Regions from separate parts of the Homo sapiens genome. Here region 2 is linked to region 1. The links come from fine-mapping of genetic effects on gene expression. A gene starts in region 1. The other region holds a variant in brackets. All regions are shown on one strand. Distances are from middle to middle.

The links.
Region 2: its variant is fine-mapped to the expression of ACSF2 in whole blood (INTERVAL, PIP 0.92).

The regions. Positions count from the first base shown.
Region 1 is chr17:50,422,785-50,430,784 of GRCh38, reverse strand. ACSF2 (acyl-CoA synthetase family member 2) reads right to left here and starts at 4,567. Exons shown (of 16, transcript NM_025149.6): 1 at 4,396-4,567. The coding sequence starts at 4,523. RefSeq lists a silencer at 4,435-4,754 and an enhancer at 4,491-5,035.
Region 2 is chr17:50,402,001-50,411,396 of GRCh38, reverse strand. No RefSeq gene overlaps it. Among named protein-coding and RNA genes, the nearest start is that of LRRC59, 9.2 kb to the right of the region's middle. The variant C/T (reference allele first, on the strand shown) is at 5,502.

The DNA of each region.
Region 1 (8,000 bases):
TAACAAAATTTGTGATACAAAGAACAAAGTATAATGAATCAATAGCTTATATCATTTTAATGTACATTCTTGGTAAATCACTTAGGAACTGTCTCTTCTTTTCATTTATTTATTTATTTAGAGACAGAGTCTCGCTCTGTCGCCCAGGTTGGAGTGCAGTGGCACAATCTCGGCTCACTGCAACCTTCTCCTCCCGGGTTTAAGCGATTCTCCTGCCTCAGCCTCCCAAGTAGCTGAAACTACAGGCGCCCGCCACCATGCCCAGCTAATTTTGTATTTTTAGTAGAGACAGGGTTTCACCATATTGGCCAGGCTGGTCTCGAACTCCTGACCTTGTGATCTGCCTGCCTCGGCCTCCCAAAGTGCCGGGATTACAGGTGTGAGCCACTGCACCCAGCCTTCTTTTCTTTTAAAAACCCACTTGTAACTGCTGCTCATCAGATCATATAATCAGGGCAACTTGAGTCTATGCTCCCGGTTGCAGTCTGCAAACATGGCCCAAATAAATCTCTCTACTTATATTACTTTGGCCTCAGATTTTTCCCTTAGGTCCACAGTCTTATATGATCATAGCCATCCCCATGGAGGGTGGTCCACAAAGCCCCCTTACCCCTCTGTCCCCACCATCAGCACCAAGTCACTGGATCCCCAGCTCTGAGCACCACACCTAATTCTGAGAGGCTTTAGCCACTGATCTCTCTGCCTTCCCAGCTCTGAGTGTTCTCAACACCCTGGATGCAGCTGCCTCATAGGCAGCCCCAGGCCAGCTTTAGGGCAGGTCTGGGGGAAGCCTGCTCAGCCCAGGTTTCTCCTTGAATTCCTTCCTTGGAGGTTCACTGAAGCCCCAGACTAAGCCATCCACCTTCTTTGGGGAAGGAGGCACATAGATAGGGGGAAGGAGTTGGTCGTGAGGAGTTCTGGAGAGCAAAGGACAGCTTTTTCTTTCCTTCTGGGGAGAAAGACTCTGGGCCGGGCGTGGTGGCTCACGCCTGTAATCCCAGCACTTTAGGAGGCTGAGGCAGGTGGATTACTTGAGTTCAGGAGTTTGAGACTAGTCTGACCAACATGGTGAAACCCCATCTCCACTAAAAATACAAAATTAGCTGGGCGGGTGGCGCACACCGGTAATCCCAGCTACTTGGGAGGCTGAGGCAGGAGAACTGCTTGAACCCAGGAGGCGGAGGTTACAGTGACCTGAGATCATGCCATTGCACTCCAGCCTGGGGCAACAAGAGCGAAATTCCACCTCAAATAAAAAAAAAAGAAAAAGAGAAAGACTCTGAACAGCCCTGCGTCAAACGGAGAGGAGGACGTCCAGCAGACCCAAGGACTGGACATGTAGCTGGGTGGAAGTCACCATCTTGGCAATCAGCTAGGAGAAATAATTGGGTTCCAGAAAGAGGCCACCAATCAGGGGATCCTCTCCTACTTTCAAATCAGTCAGAATTCCCACCCAGACACCAGTCAAGGGTTTCCAGGGATCAGCCCTGCCTCAAAGGAAAGGCTGAGAACAAGAGCAAGCTTGTTTTATTCATCAGCCCAACAACACAGCAAGAAGGTAGTAAGTAATGAACTAACTAGCTCAGAGGTTAGATAACATGCCCGAGGTCATACAACCAACAGGGAGAGGACCCAGGGCTGTCATCCAGGATAGTCTAACTTCAAAGCCCTTGCTCTTTTCTCTCAGGCAAAACCAGGGTCTGGTAAGTAATAGGCCTGGGTGTTGGGCAACAGGAAAGCAGGCTGTGTGTGAGCAGATCGGAGAAAACAGAGGACGAAAGTCCAAGCGCATTCCTCACCATGGCACTTGCAACACCGAATAGTGCTCACCTTGATTTATTTCTCCTCCTACGAGGCTGCAAGTTCCTGGCAGGGTGAGGACTGAGTTCTGTGGCCTCTATATGCACAGCATGTGCTAGCATGACGCAGAATCTGTTCTCAGGAATGTTTGCTGATGGTTTCAGCCCTGAGGCTTCTTTTTTCATTTTTATTTTTATTTTTTTGAGATGAAGTCTTTCTCTGTCACCCAGACTGGAGTGCAGTGGTGCAATCTCAGCTCAGTGCAACCTCCGCTTCCCAGGTTCAAGTAATTCTCCTGCCTCAGCCTCCCAAGTAGCTGGGATTACAGGCATGTGCCACCACGCCAGGCTAATTTTATATTTTTAGTAGAGATGGGGTTTCTCCATGTTGGCCAGTCTGATCTAACTCCTGACCTCAAGTGATCCGCCCACCTCAGCCTCCCAAAGTGCTGGGATTACAGGCATAAGCCACCATGCTTGGCCTTTATTTTTATTTATTTATTTTTGACATGGAGTCTCCCTCTGTCACCCAGGCTGGAGTGCAGAGGTGCAGTCTTGGCTCACTACAACCACCGCCTCCCAGGTTGGAGCAATTCTCCTGCCTCAGACACCCTAGTAGCTGGTATTACAGGCACATGCCACCACGCCCGGCTGATTTTTGTATTTTTAGTAGAAACGGGGTTTCACCATGTTGGCCAAACCGGTCTCCTGACTTCAAGTGATCTGCCTGCCTGGGCTTCCCAAAGTGCTGGGATTACAGGCATGAGCCACCCACCCAGCCTTTATTTTTATTTTTTGAGTCTAGGTTTTGCTCTGCTGCTCAGGCTAGAGTGCAGTGGCATGATGACGGCTCAATGCAGCCTTGAACTCCTGGGCTCAAGTGATCCTACCACCTCTGCTTTCCAAAGTGCTGAGATTACAGGCATAAACCACCTTGCCTGGCCTGAGCCCTGAGGCTTCTGAAGGGGAAAGTAGGAGAGAAATCAGGTAAAACCATCACAGTCAGACAATAAGGGTGCAGGCACAAGGGAGTGGAAGGGGCAGAAAGAAAGTAGGCCAAACACTCAGAAAATCATCTGTCTGGATAAATGAGTCTCCTCCTGACACAGCAATAAGAATTTCTCTGAAGCTTGGTGCTCTCAGAGGTCCCAGGGCTGTAGCAGGTAAGTGACCTGTTTTGTTTATAGATAAAAAAAAGTCAAAGGTCAGAAATGTTGCCATGTGGCCTGATTTATTACTTATTTATTGGTTTGTTTGTTTGTTTTCTATTGGGCAGCCTCCTGAGCCAGAGTAGGCTGAGAGACTTCCCCTGTGGCCTGATTTAGTGTGATAAAATATGTACACTTTGGGAAGTAACTTTCCTCAGAGTCCTCCCAGCCTGAGGGGGCAGCCATGAGTCCAGAGGAGAGGCTTAAGAGACTAGGGGGTCAGGGGAGGGCCGAACTTGTCTAGGGAGACCCTGGGAAGTAGTGAGTGACTTCCCAGGGTCACTGGGAAGAGGACCCCACTGTCCTCATCTCAATCCCATCTACTGACCAGCCTTGATCCACTTAGTTTTCTCAGCAAATTAGGCAGAGTGATGTTAAGGCATTGCATGCTTTCTAGCATTCAGAAATCAGCAAGTTCAGAAAGTGTGATCTTGGAGTTCTAGCCAAAAAGGAGTCTGCATGTCCCTCCAACTCTTCCTACTTAGCCTTTTTAAAAACAAAAACAAATCTAGTTCTCTGAGACACAGCTTTGTTCTGACTTCTCCCTTTTCCATGTCCAGGCCCACACCCCATCTGATGTTGCTGAAAGTGCTGTCCTGACCATAGACTTAGTATCTGGCCGAGTTGAGTGGTAGGACAGGCTCAGTAGTGCACAGGGCTCCCCAGTGGTGCTGCTGAAGCTAACAGCCCTGATAACATGAGTGGCAGCCTGCTCTCTGTGTCTCAAGCACTTTCACATTTGCCATCTCACGGGGTCCTCCCAAGGACTGGTCACACCGGGAAGGCAGCTTTACTTACTGTGCTGCTGCAGAGGCAGTGAAGCTACTGGGAACTGAAATCCTCTGCCTGCCAGCTTCCATCCCACCCCTTGCACTGAGGACAGAAGGAAATAGGCCCAGGAGTAGGCAGCAAAGAATTAAAGCCATGTTAGTGAGCAGCTGATGAGGAGACAGGAGACTGCTAAGTTTAGTGGCCTGGGTCGGGGAGACTGGGGCTGATCCCCAAGTTTGCCCATGAAGGGGTTCCAACTCAGAGGCAGTGTCCTGGGGGTACAGCCCAGGCCTTGGCCCTTGCCCCTCCCCATCGGAATATTCTCCTTAAAGCCCACACTCCTTGCCCTCTGTGCCCATAAAGGAGAAGGAATCGAGAGTCTTGGACCAGAACTCGAAGTCACTGCAGCCACCAACCAAAGCCCCCTCCCCACCCAAGTCCACCAGGCCAAGCCAGCTTTTCCTATTGCCTAGGTGCTGGCGGGGGGCGGGGGAGGGGCGGGTACCTTCCCCCCAGTGCACTCGTCCAGAGGTGGGGCTTCCGAAGCTCGCCGGGACCTCCAAGTTCCTCTCCCGGGGAACTGCCCCGCCCCCTCTCTTCCCGCGGGGGGCCAGTACCTGAGGAAGCGGACACCCTGCAACCTGGCTTCCTGCCAACTCCGAGAGAGGGCGGCCCGGGCCCCCAGCACCCCCGAGCTCCCGGCGCACAGCCTCCCCAGGCGCAGCATCCCGACGTAGACAGCCATGGCTCGCTTTGCCCTGCGTCCCGGCCCGAGTAAACTTTTAAAGTGAGCCGGGGCGGGGCGGGCGCGCAGCGGGCGGGGAGGCGGGGAGGGTGGCCTCTGCCTATGGGGTGCGGCGGATTCGGTCTCCGCCGGCGGGGCGGGGCGGGGCGCGGCGGCGGCGACTTCGCGCGGGGCCACCTTCCCCTCCGACCCCGCGGCCCTCCCCCTCCCACCCTCGAAGAATAGCCCTGGTTTCCTCTGGATCCGAAGGCCCCAGCTGCAGTCCGAAACAGATCTTCCTCGCGACCATCCTCAGGGGCCTGGATGTTAGAAGCGCAAAAATTTGTTGATTTCCTAGAGGGAGAGCCAGCAGCACATCCGTGAGGGGCCAGATGGCAAGGTCAAGATCCATCCATCCCCTGCCCCCTCGGGTCACGTGCTGGCCCCGCTACTTGCGAGCCGGGGGCCAAAGGAGCAGGCGCGAAGCGTCCTTGAGGCATGCCAGCTGGAGCAGAGGGCCCCGCGGGGTTGGGGAGGCAGCCAGAACAAAGGGTGTCGCGGGTGAGCCCCCTGCGGGCCCGCTGGCGCCAGAGTCCCAGCTGAGGCCAGATGTCAGCTTCAGAAGGAACACCAGTTGTACCCCATCTCACAGGAGGCATCCTCCCATCCCTCCTCGGCGCCTCTGCCTTGACCTTCTGCACAGGGTTGGGGGCCGGACACGTAAGGTGGCCTCAGGGACTGGGACCTGTGTATTTCATCCTCCATCTGCCTGTCTTGGGGCCTGTGGCACAGTTCCCTGTGCTGCCCCAGGTGTGAATGGAAAGCAACCCTATGCCCCTCCTTAGGGTTCCTGAGGCCCAGGGGTGAGTGGGGTACTAAGACCTGGGCAGAGCTGCGGGACAGAGAAGGTGATAGCTCTGGTCCTGGCTAGGAAAAGTGGCACTGGGCACCAAAGAGTAGCACAGTTTATACCTGTTCCAGGTCCACACTGCCTCGGCCTAGCCATGACTCTTCCTCTAGAGAAGGAGCTGGAGAAGAATGGGGCAAAGGCCCTGGCAGTGTGACCTCCCCTCTCCTGACTGGAGGAGATGAAGTAAACCCTGCCAGGCAGAAGGGGTGGCTGAGAGTGGAGCCTGGCCTGAGGTGACCTTTGCCCTTATCTGGGAACTCTGGCTCCACTTGGGTCATGAGAAGGAGTCCATGCTGGGCCTCTTTATGATCTTGAGCGTGACCTCAAATCCTCCCTGGAACCCCGGTTCCTAGGGAGGGTCCCCACACTTCAGTTTCTGTGGGGTTGGGGCAGGAAGAGACAGAGGAACAAAGAGATCACCGGAGGCTGGGCCTGCAAGGGTGTGCTTTCCTAATTAGACTAACTGTCTTTGATAGCGGACCAGGGAATGTGGAGGGCTGGGGCATTCACAAGTCTGGGTTCCCAGCCGTGGCTGGCAGGCTTAGCCTCTAGCATGCTGGGTGACCCTGGGTAAACCACTGTCCCTCTCTTGGCCTATGAAGTGTGGGGTGGGTACTGATCTTGTAGGTCCTTCCACTCTTCTGGCTAGTTTGAGGGTCAGTCCTAGAGTGGGAGAGAAGTGAGTTCCTCCTTGAACTTTGCTCCAGCCTCGGCTTTTCAAGACACTGGGCTTTCCTGACTCTTCCTAGGTGCACAGGCCGTGGCATCATAGCCATCAGTTTCAGGGTATCTTGTACATGCCAGGCTCTTCAAGGACATTTTCTCTGACCCTCACAAACACCCTGCAAGGAACAGGCATGGCTTGGAATGTGTCTTTGTTTTTATGGATGAAGAAACTGAATCCCAAAGAGGTTCAGCTTCTTAAACATAGGCCAAAGCTCTGCCAGTAGTCTCTTTGTGGCTTTGGGCAAGTCACGGGGCCTCTCCAGCCTCGTTATCTGTCAAATGGGGATAATAATACCAACTTCACGCAGAGGGCTGGGTAAGAATTGAGTAGGTGGCACAGAACTGGTAGTCGGCCAGTTTTCAGTGATTGTTTCTTTTTCCATCCTCTCCTTCCTCTTGTGTCTTCACTCTAAGACCTTCCTCTGTGTAGGAATTGCAAACCTTTTTTAGGAGGGAGAATTGTTTTATTTGTGCAAAGCCCTGGTAGGCACTGGTTCTGTGGATGGGGAGGAGGGCTGGGAGAAAGTCAAGACGGCTGGTGGAAGTCCGTGAGTCATGGTGGGGGAATCACGTTGACCCGCATTCTTTGGCTAGTATAAGGAAGTGGGGAGCAGGGCAGTGGGCCATCCAGGCTCTCCAGCTTCCCTTCCCTTCCCTTTAACCAATTAAATTCCCCGTTGCTCCCCAAGGGGCCTTCTGCCTGAGCCATCACATCTCCTTTATGCTGCATGTGACTTGCATGATTTATGGTCCCTGTAATTTGGCTCATGCCATTGGCTACCATGAGAAAGCCCTTATTCCCGCCCCTTTGCCCATGTCTTGCTTCTGTGCTTCAAAAGCAGGCTCAAAATGTAAACACCATTTATTGATTTTTTTTCTTTCATAACATCAACCTACAGAAGACCTAGTCACAGTTACAGAATAGAATGTAAATGTAAGTATCACTAACTTTGGAAGTTACATCTGATAGTAGTTGAGAGGGAAGGGGTGGGGGAGAGTATAAAATAAAAAAAAAGGGTATGTCATTATGTACAAAAATAATAATAAAACTATAGTACCAGCACTTAGGGAGGAGAGATGGGGTGCAAGTACCCATTTATCAAACAGAAAATCTAAAACTGGCAAAATAAGTATGTCATTTAGAGGCAAGTAGCAGAAGAAGATAAATCAGAAATCGTTACAATAGTTCAAATGATTCTCTTTGGACTTAAATAGATATTTCACCAAATAAATATATATATGTATGTATGTATGTATATATTGACCCCAAGAGTTTGAGGCTGCGGTGAGCTGAGATCACACCACTGCACTCCTGCCTGGGTGACAGAGCAAGACCCTGTCTCAAAAAAAAAAAAAGAACACCCGCAAAAAAACAGAAAATAACAAGTATTGGTGGGGTTGTGGAGAGACTGGACACGTGTGCATTGGGTGGTGGGAATGTAAAATGGGGCCACCACAGTGGATGGTATGGTGCTTCCTCAAAAAATTAAAAATGAGTTATATGATCCAGCAATTCTACTTCTGGGTATATACCCAAAATAATTGAAAGTCGGGACTCCAACAAACATTTGTGTACCAATGTTCACAACAGAATTGTTCCCAATAGCCAAAAGACAGACACAACCCAAATATTCATCAATGATTGAATGGATAAACAAATGCAGTAGATCCATACAATGGAATACTATTCAGCTTTCAAAAAAGGAAGGAAATTCCCACACATGCTACAGTCCACATGAACTTTGAACACATTGTGCTAAGTGAAATAAGCCAAACACAAAAGAATAAATACTGTATGATTCCATTCATATGCGACACCTAGAGTAGTCAAATTCTTAGAGACAAAGTGGAATGGTGGTTGC
Region 2 (9,396 bases), 20 kb after region 1:
TCTGTAATCCCAGCTACTTGGAGGTGGAGGCAGGAGAATCGCATGAATCTGGGTGGTGGAGGTTGCAGTGAGCCGAGATCACACCACTGCACTCCAGCCTGGATAACAGAGCAAGACTCCGTCTGTAAAAAAATAAATAAACAAACAAAATAGTTTCTTCTATAGGTGGAGATTTATGATTGAGGAATCCAGGCTTGGAGAGATTAGGTAATGTGTCCAAAGTTGGTAGAACCAGATTTGATCTCAGTTCCATCTCAACATATGATGATTTTATTTATTCATTCATTCATTGCTTATTTATTTGTAATAAACTTTTCTATATTATAATTTATTACAAAAGTTATAAGGCTGATTTTAGCAAATTTTTAAGGTTAACTAGGTTAAAAAGTATGGATATTCATCTATACATTTTCCTAGGCTCATATATATTGAGCCTAGGAATATTATATATATTATTATATGTTATATATTAATATATCATATCTCTGTTAATATTATATATATAATTTTTATTTTCTCTTTTAAGAGAAGAAGAGTTGCTATGCTGCCCAGGCTGAACTTAAACTCCTGGACTCAAGCCATTCTCTGCCTCAGCCTCTCGAGTAGCTGGGACTACAGGCATAAGCCATTAAATCTGGCTATTATTACAAAAAAAAAATCATGCTGGACAATTAATAGAATCAGAATAAAGTCTATAGATTAGAGAGTAGTATTGATCAGTGTGAATTTGTTGATTTTTACAATTGCCCTGTGGTTATATATTTCCTTGTACTTAGAAAAAAAATTGATATATTTAGTGATAAAAGGGCATCATATCTGCAACATACTCAAACAGTTTAGAAATTGTGTGTGTGTGTGTGTATGTGTGTGTGTCTGTGTGTGTGTGTAGACAGAGAGACAGAAGGATAAAGCAACTGTAGTGAAATGGCAAATGGGAGATCTGGGTAAAGAGTACACAGGAGGGCCAGCCGCAGTGGCTCACATCTGTAATCCTGGTACCTTGGGAAGCCGAGACCGGTGGATCACCTGAGGTCGAGAGTTTGAGACCAGCCTGACCAACATGGAGAAACCTCGTCTCTACTAAAAATACAAAATTAGCCGGGCATGGAGCGCCCGCCTGTAATTCCAGCTACTCAGGAGGCTGAGGCAGGAGAATTGCTTGAACCTGGAAGGCGGAGGTTACGGTGAGCCGAGATTGCGCCATTGCACTCCAGCCTTGGCGACAGAGCAAGACACCGTCTCCAAAAAAAGAAAAAAAAAGTACACAGAAATTATTTTTATTTTATTTTATTTTTATAATAGAGATGGGGTCTTGCCATGTTGCCCAGGTTGATCTCAAACTCCTAGCCTCAAGTGATTCTCCTGCTTTGGCTTCCCAAAGTGCTGGGATTACAGGTGTAAGCTACCGCACCCAGCTCCAGGAATTCTTTCTATTCTTACAACTTTTCTGTAAATCTGAAATAATGTCAAAATGAAATTCTGTTTCTAAAAAATGAGATCAGGCCATGTACCATACTCAATGACTTGCATGTTTTTACTTGACCATATGCAATAAACATTTTTTTCCAGATCAATACATACAGTTCCTAGTCATTCTCTTTAATGGCTGCATAATTTTCCACAGTAATGTTCCATTGTATAAATACATTCTCAGTTTTTCAACCACTCATTTGTTGATGGATTTGACTTTTTTTTCTTGAGACAGAATCTTGCTCTGTCACTCAGGCTGGAGGGCAGTGGCACGATCTTGGCTCACTGCAATCTCCACCTCCTGGGTTCAAGCGATTCTCCTGCCTCACCCTCCCGAATAACTGGGACTACAGGTGGGTGCCACCACACTTGGCTATTTTTTTTTTTTTTTTTAAGTAGAGACGGGGTTTTGCCATGTTGGCCAGACTGGTCTCCAACTCCTGACCTCAGACCTCAAGTGATCCACCTACCTTAGCCTCCCAAAGTGCTGGGATTACAGGCATGAGCCACTGCGCCTGGCCTTTTTTTAATTTTTATTTTTTATTTTTATTTTGATAGGGGGAGGGTCTCATGCTGGAGTACAGTGGTGCAATCACGACTCACAGCAGCCTCACCCTCCTGGGCTCAAGTGATCCTTCTCCCTCAGCTTCCTGAGTAGCTGGGACCATAAGTGTGGGCCACTATGCCTGACAAATTTTATTATTTTTTGTAGAGACAGAGTATCCATTCCTATGTTGCCCAGTCTGGTCTTGAACTCCTGGGCTCAAGCAATCCTCCAGCCTTGGACTTCCATAGTGCTGGAATTACAGGCATGAGTCACTATGCCCAGCTTCATAGCAATTCTTGCACATTTATCTTGCTATATGAACTTGACTTTTCCCTCTATGTGCATTTTTTTTTTGTTAAAAATATTTATTTAAAAAGTACAATTGTCATATCCCTCGATATGCTTTTTTTTTTTTTTTTTTTTTTTGTGAGACAGAGTCTCTGTTGCCCAGGCTGGAGTGCAGTGGCACGATCTTGGCTCACTGCAACCTCCGCCTCACTGGCTCAAGCAATTCTCTGCCTCAGCCTCCCGAGTAGCTGGGATTACAGGTGCCTGCCACCACGCCCAGGTAATTTTTGTGTTTTTAATAGAGATGGGGTTTCACCATCTTGGCCAGGCTGGTCTTGGACTCCTGACCTGGTGCCACCCGCCTCGGACTTCCAAAGTGCTGGGATTACGGGCATGAGCCACCGCACCTGGCCCCCTCTGTATGCTTTTTTTTTTTTTTTTTTTTTGAGATGGAGTCTCACTCTGTTGCCCAGGCTGGAGTGCAGTGGCGCAATCTCGGCTCACTGCAACCTCTGCCTCCTGGGTTCAAATGATTCTCCTGCCTCAGCCTCCCGAGTAGCTGGGACTACAGGCGCGTGCCACCATGCCCAGCTAATTTTTGTATTTTTAGTAGAGACAGGGTTTCACCATGTTGGCCAGGATGATCTCCATCTCTTGATCTCGTGATCTTCCCACCTCAGCCTCCCAAAGTGCTGGGATTACAGGCATGAGCCACTGCATCCAGCCCCTCTATATGCATTTTAAGATAATATTAGGCCAGGCGCAGTGGCCTGCCTATAATCCCAGCACTTTTGCTAGGTGGTCGTGAAAGGATCTCTTGAGCCCAGGAGTTCAAGACCAGCCTGGGCAACATAGGGAGACCCCGTCTCCAAAAAAAATTAAAAAATAGCCGAGTACAGTGGTCCATGCCTGTGGTCCCAGCTACTAGGGAGGCTAAGGTGGAGAGGATCACTTGAGCACTGGGAGGTGGAGACTCCAGTGAGCTGTGATCGTACCACTGCATTCCAGCTAGGCAACAGAGCAAGACCCTGTCTCAAACAAACAAAAAAAGAGAATATTTACTTAGTTCTAAAAACAAAAATGAAACAAAAATCTTGGGATTTCTAATTGCAGTTGCCTTCAATTTGAGGGTTACCTTGGGAAAGGCTGACTTACAGGAACATGGTGACTTACATTCCACATGTATGTCTCTACATGTGGAAGTATTTAAGGCGAATTTATAGCCAAGCGTGGTGGCTTATGTCTGTAATCCCAGCACTTTGGAAGGCTGAGGTGGGCGAATCACCTGAGGCCAGGAGTTCAAGAGAAGCCTGGTCAACATGGCAAAACCCCGTATCTACTAAAAATACAAAAATTAGCTGGGCATGGTGGCGCGCACCTGTAATCCCAGCTACTTGGAGGCTGAAGCAGGAGAATCGCTTGAACCCAGGAGGTGGAGGCTGCAGTGAGCTGAGATCATGCCACTGCATTCCAGCCTGGGAGACAGAGACTCTGTCTCGAAAAAAGCAAATTTATGTAAGTAAGTAAACTATATAAATGGAGATCAATATTAAAATATACTTTGGGGGCTCACATCCTCAAGGCCTGAGACTGCTTTTTTTTTTTTTTTTAACTTGAGATGGAGTCTAGCTCTGTTGCCCAGGCTGGATGGAGTGTGGTGGTGTGATCTTGGCTCGCTGCAGCATCCACCTCCTGGGTTCAAGCAATTCTTCTGCCTCAGCCTCCCGAGTAGAGTAGCTGAGACTACAGGCACATGCCACCACACCTAGCTAATTTTTGTATTTTTTAAAGTAGAGATGGAGTTTCACCACGTTGGCCAGGCTGATCTTGAACTCCTGGCCTCAGGTGATCACTCGCCTTGTCCTCTCAAAGTGCTGGGATTACAGACACGAGCCACCATGCCTGGCCTGCCTTTTTTTTTTTTCAACCCACCTGCCAAAGGGACTCAGCTGCCCTTAAAAAGGTTGATTCCTGCTGCGTGGTGCTATTGGCTCTTTCTCTCCTGTCTCTCTGTGGATCCTTGATGTGCTACTTCATATTATTATGCTCACTTTTTCAATGTTTAAAAATTTATTTATTTAGAATAGGGGGGTGCTCTCACTATGTTGCCTAGATTGGCCTCAAACTCCTAGGCTCAGGCGATCCTCCTGCCTCCGCCTCCCAAGTAGCTGGGATTACAGGCAATGGCTGCTGCACCTGGCTATTATACCCGTTTTACAGAAGGAGGAACAGAAGCTGGGAGTGTAACAAGTTGCCAAGATTGCCCCAGAGTTAGCAGTGGCTGCACTGGCCTGACGCCCAAGGGTTTTCAGGCAGCTGATGACTCCTGTCCTAGTCTTGATCTTGGGCTTCTCAATTGCTGCTGGTACTTGTGTTCTGTTTGGCAGCTCCCCTAACAACCTCAGACATCCAAGCACAAAGTGGCATTTGGTTTTGGGGGGTTCAGCATAGGGCCAGCCTGTTGTTTCCAAGAAAAAGGCTGCCAACAGACGACAGGCTTCACTTTCTCACAAAGCTGCAGGGCTCTAGCCTAAGAGATTTAAAGAAATCTTCCCCAAAGTCAGTACCTGTGGTCAGTTCCTTGCTCTGCCTCTCTGCTTCCCTGGGCTGCATCTCTACCTGTCTGGACCTCATCCATCCTTCAAAGCCCAACCTAAATGCCACCTTCTCCATGGTGCCTTTTCTGATTTCTCTCTTCCGTACAGGCTCCTCCCCACCATGCTGGGTTTGCACCCACCTTTCTTGGAATGCATTCACTTTCCTGCTGTGATTGTCATTAAATAGTTGACCTTTTTGAACCTCAATCACTTCACCTGTAAAACTGAAATAATGTCTGCCTTATAAGTCTGTTGTGAAGGCCGAGTTAAAAGACATAATATATGTAAAGCACAGTCTGAGGCACAAATAATGTTTTTGCACCTGTCAACCTGATGTTATCACACACACACAGCACTACATATTCATGCACAGATCTCATCTCTATGTGTTCAGGCACTTATCCTTTTACCTTTTATAATAATTATTTGCATGGACTGTAGGCTCCTTCATGGTAGGAAAAATAGGGTGTAGTGAAAAGAAACAGGATTTGGAATAAAAAAGTCTGCCCCTCAACCAAAGGTGTGGCTGAGAACAAGTGACTTTTCCTCTCTGAGCTTTGGTTTCTTCCTCCTTAAGAGAGGGAGTACGATGAAATGTG[C/T]CTCACTGTCTCCTCATGTACATTATCAAAATAAGATAATGGATGCTCAAGGATTTAGAGATTGCCAAATGCTAATGTATGTATTATCCAATTGCCCTTGTCTGTTTCCCAGAAGCCCAGCACAGTGCCTTGCTGGCGACGGGTTGGGGTGTGCACAGCGGGGATTTGATAAATAAGGAGTAGGCCATTGTGAGAGAGAGGCAGGACTAGCTGGATTTCCTAGGCCGACTAAGAATCCCTAAGCCTAACTGGGAAGGTGACCGCATCCACCTTTAAACATGGGGCTTGCAACTTAGCTCACACCCAACCAATCAGGTAGTAAAGAGAGCTCAGTAAAATGCTAAGTAGGCAAAAACAGGAGGTAAAGTAATAGCCAATAATCTATCACCTGAGAGCACAGGAGGAGGGACAATGATCGGGATATAAACCCAGGCATTCAAGCTGGCAACAGTAACCCCCTTTGGGTCCCCTTCCATTTTATGGGAGCTCTGTTTTCACTCTATTAAATCTTGCAACTGCACAATGTTCTGGTCCATGTTTGTTACAGCTTGAGCTGAGCTTTCACTTGCTGTCCACCACTGCTGTTTGCCACTGTCACAGACCTGCTGCTGACTTCCACCCCTCCAGATCCGGCAGAGTGTCCGCTGTGCTCCTGATCCAGCAAGGTGCCCACTGCCGCTCCCGATTGGGCTAAAGGCTTGCTATTGTTCCTCCACGGCTAAGTGCCCAGGTTCATCCTAATCGAGCTGAAGAGAGCTATAACACTCACTGCATGGCCCAAGATTCCATTCCTTGGAATGCATGAGGCCAAGAATCCCAGGTCAGAGAACAAGAGGCTTGCCGCCATCTTGGAAGCAGCCTGCCACCATCTCGGAAGCAGCCTGCCACCATCTTGGGAGCTCTAAGAACAAGGACCCCCTGGTAAGATATTGGCAACCATGAAGGGACCTCCAAAGCAGTAATATTGGACCACTTTCACTTGCTATTCTGTCCTATCCTTCCTTAGAATTGGAGGAAAATACTGGGCATCTGTCGGCCAGTTAAAAACGATTAGCGTGGCCGCCTCACTTAAGACTCAGGTATAAGGCTGTCTTGGAAAGGGCTTTCTAACAACCCCAACCCTTCTGGGTTAGAAGTGTTGGTCTGCCTGGAACCAGCTTCCGCTTTCAATTTTCCTGGGGAAGCTGAGGGCTGACTAGAGACAGAAAGCTGTCTTCCCGAACTCCCGGGGTTAGCCAGTTGAGATCATGGTGCAGCCAGAAGTCTCTGCTCAACAGTCACCCATGCGTGCGCCCCTACCTTTCCTTCTGACCCATACCTCCTGGGTCCCGACCATGACTTTCTTGAAAGTGTAGCCCCAAAATTCTCCTTACCTCTGAATCTACTTCCTCTGATCCCTGCCTCCTAGGTCTAATGCTTCAGACTTTCACTTCCTCTCCCAAGTATTAGAGCAGGTTGTATCTCCAAAGGGATCTAAGGAAGCTCTATGCTGTGTCCTTAGGCATCTAGAATATGAACCCAGGGAGTCTTGTCCCTGATGTACCTCCCAATTTAGGCATACAGCTCTCGACATGGGCAGTTAGGTGGGACCCATTCCCCAACACCCTTGCCAGGGCCCCAAGTTTGTAAATGGCTAGGAGGATTGCTCTCCCATTGTGTAAGATGCTCTCCTCCCCCAATTTCTACCCAGCTTATCCCTCTGCAATGCAATCTCCAAGCCTTGGCTCCTTGGCCAGGGCCTTAGAACTGATGACCCAGTACGTTAACAACTGGAACTGGGTCTACGACAACATAATAGATCAGGATGAAAGCGAATTGAGTAAGTCAAGGAGAGAAGAGACAGAGAGAGACAGATAGAAAAAAGAGAGGGAGAGAGAGAAAAAGAGAGATAGATGTAGTAAAGAAAAAACAGTGTGCCCTATTCCTTTAAAAGCCAGGGTAAATTTAAAACCTATAATTGATAATTGAAGGTCTTCTCTGTGACCCTATAACACTCCAATACTGCCTTGTTGTCAGTGTAAACAAGGGCGTAGCCTGAAAGCACTGAGATCCAGGAACCAATGGATGGCCCAAATGCATTCAGTCTGTAGCAGCAACTGCTTTGCTAAGAGAAGAAAGTGAAAAGTAACTTTTTTTTTTTTTGAGACGGATTCTCACTGTCGCCCAGGCTGGAGTGCAGTGGCGTGATCTCGGCTCACTGCCAGCTCCACCTCCCGGGTTCACGCCATTCTCCTGCCTCAGCCTCCTGAGTAGCTGGGACTACAGGCGCCCGCCACCATGCCCAGCTAATTTTTTTTTTTTTTTTGTATTTTTAGTAGAGATGGGGTTTCACCGTGTTAGGCAGGATGGTCTTGATCTCCTGACCTCATGATCCACCCACCTCGGCCTTCCAAAGTGTTGAGATTACGGGCGTGAGCCACTGTGCCCAGCCTAGAAAAGTAGCCTTTTGAGGAATCCTCATTGTGAGCACACCTCACCAGTTCAGAATTATTCTAAGTCAAAAAAGCAAAAAGGTAGCTTACTAACTCAAAAATCTTAAAGTATGGGGCTATTCTGTTAGAAAAAGGTAATTTAACACTAACCACTGAAAATTCCCTTAACCCAGCAGATTTCCTAACAGGGAATTTAAATCTTAATTACCATACAAAGGTCCGACCAGACCTAGAAGGAACTCCCTTCAGAAAAGAATGATAGATGGCTCCTCCCAGGTGATTGAGGAAAAAACACAATGGGTATTCAGTAATTGATAGGGAGACTCTTGTGGAAGCAGAGTTAGAAGAATTGCCTAATAATTGGTCTGCTCAAACGTGGGAGCTGTTTGCACTCAGCCAAGCCTTAAAGTACTTACAGAATCAAAAAGACTCTATCTCAATCCTGACTCAAAAGGTTACCTACACCCTCTCTGAAGCGAATTTGCATAAGAACTGTTGTTTATGGGGATGCATCTTGATGGGGCAGCTGGGTTGTTAGGAAATACTCAAGAACTCAGCCCAGCTCTAGAACTCACCTCTGAGCATGAAGGCAATGTTGGGCACGCTGGTAAAGGACCACTAGAATCCAGCAGCTCGGACCCCTTTCTTTGTGCTCGGGAAAAGGGGTGCAGGACTGCTACATCGGTGAGCATAACTAATCCGATAAGCAGAAGTCCATGGGTGGTTATGCACCCTGGAAAGGAATAAGCATTAGGACCATAGAGCACCCTCTAGGACTAATGCTTATGGGAAAATCACTAGGGGTGCTGGCATCTCTATTTTTTTTTTCAGATGGGAAACATTCCCCCCAAGGCAAAAATGCCCCTAAGATGTATTCTGGAGAATTCGGCCCAGTCAGAGTGTATGTACCTTTTTCCCTGTCAGACTTGAAGCAAATTAAAATAGACCTAGGTAAGGCTGGGCGCGGTGGCTCACGCCTGTAATCCCAGCACTTTGGGAGGCTGAGGCAGGCAGATCACGAGGTCAGGAGACTGAGACCATCCTGGCTAACACGATGAAACCCCATCTCTACTAAAAATACAAAAAAAAAAAAAATAGCCAGGCGTGGTGGCGGGCACCTGTAGTCCCAGCTACTCGGGAGGCTGAGTCAGGAGAATGGCGTGAACCCAGGAGGCAGAGGTTGCAGTGAGCCGAGATCATGCCACTGCACTCCAGCCTGGGCAACAGAGTGCGACTCCGTCTTAAAAAAAAAAAATAGACCTAGGTAAATTCTCAGATAACCCTGATGGCTATATTGATGTTTTACAAGGGTTAAGACAATCCTTTGTTCTGACATGGAGAGATATAATGTTACCGCTAGATCGGACACTAACCACAAATGAGAGAAGTGCCGCCATAACTGCAGCCCGAGAGTTTGGCGATATCTGGTATCTCAGTCAGGTCAATGATAGGATGACAACAGA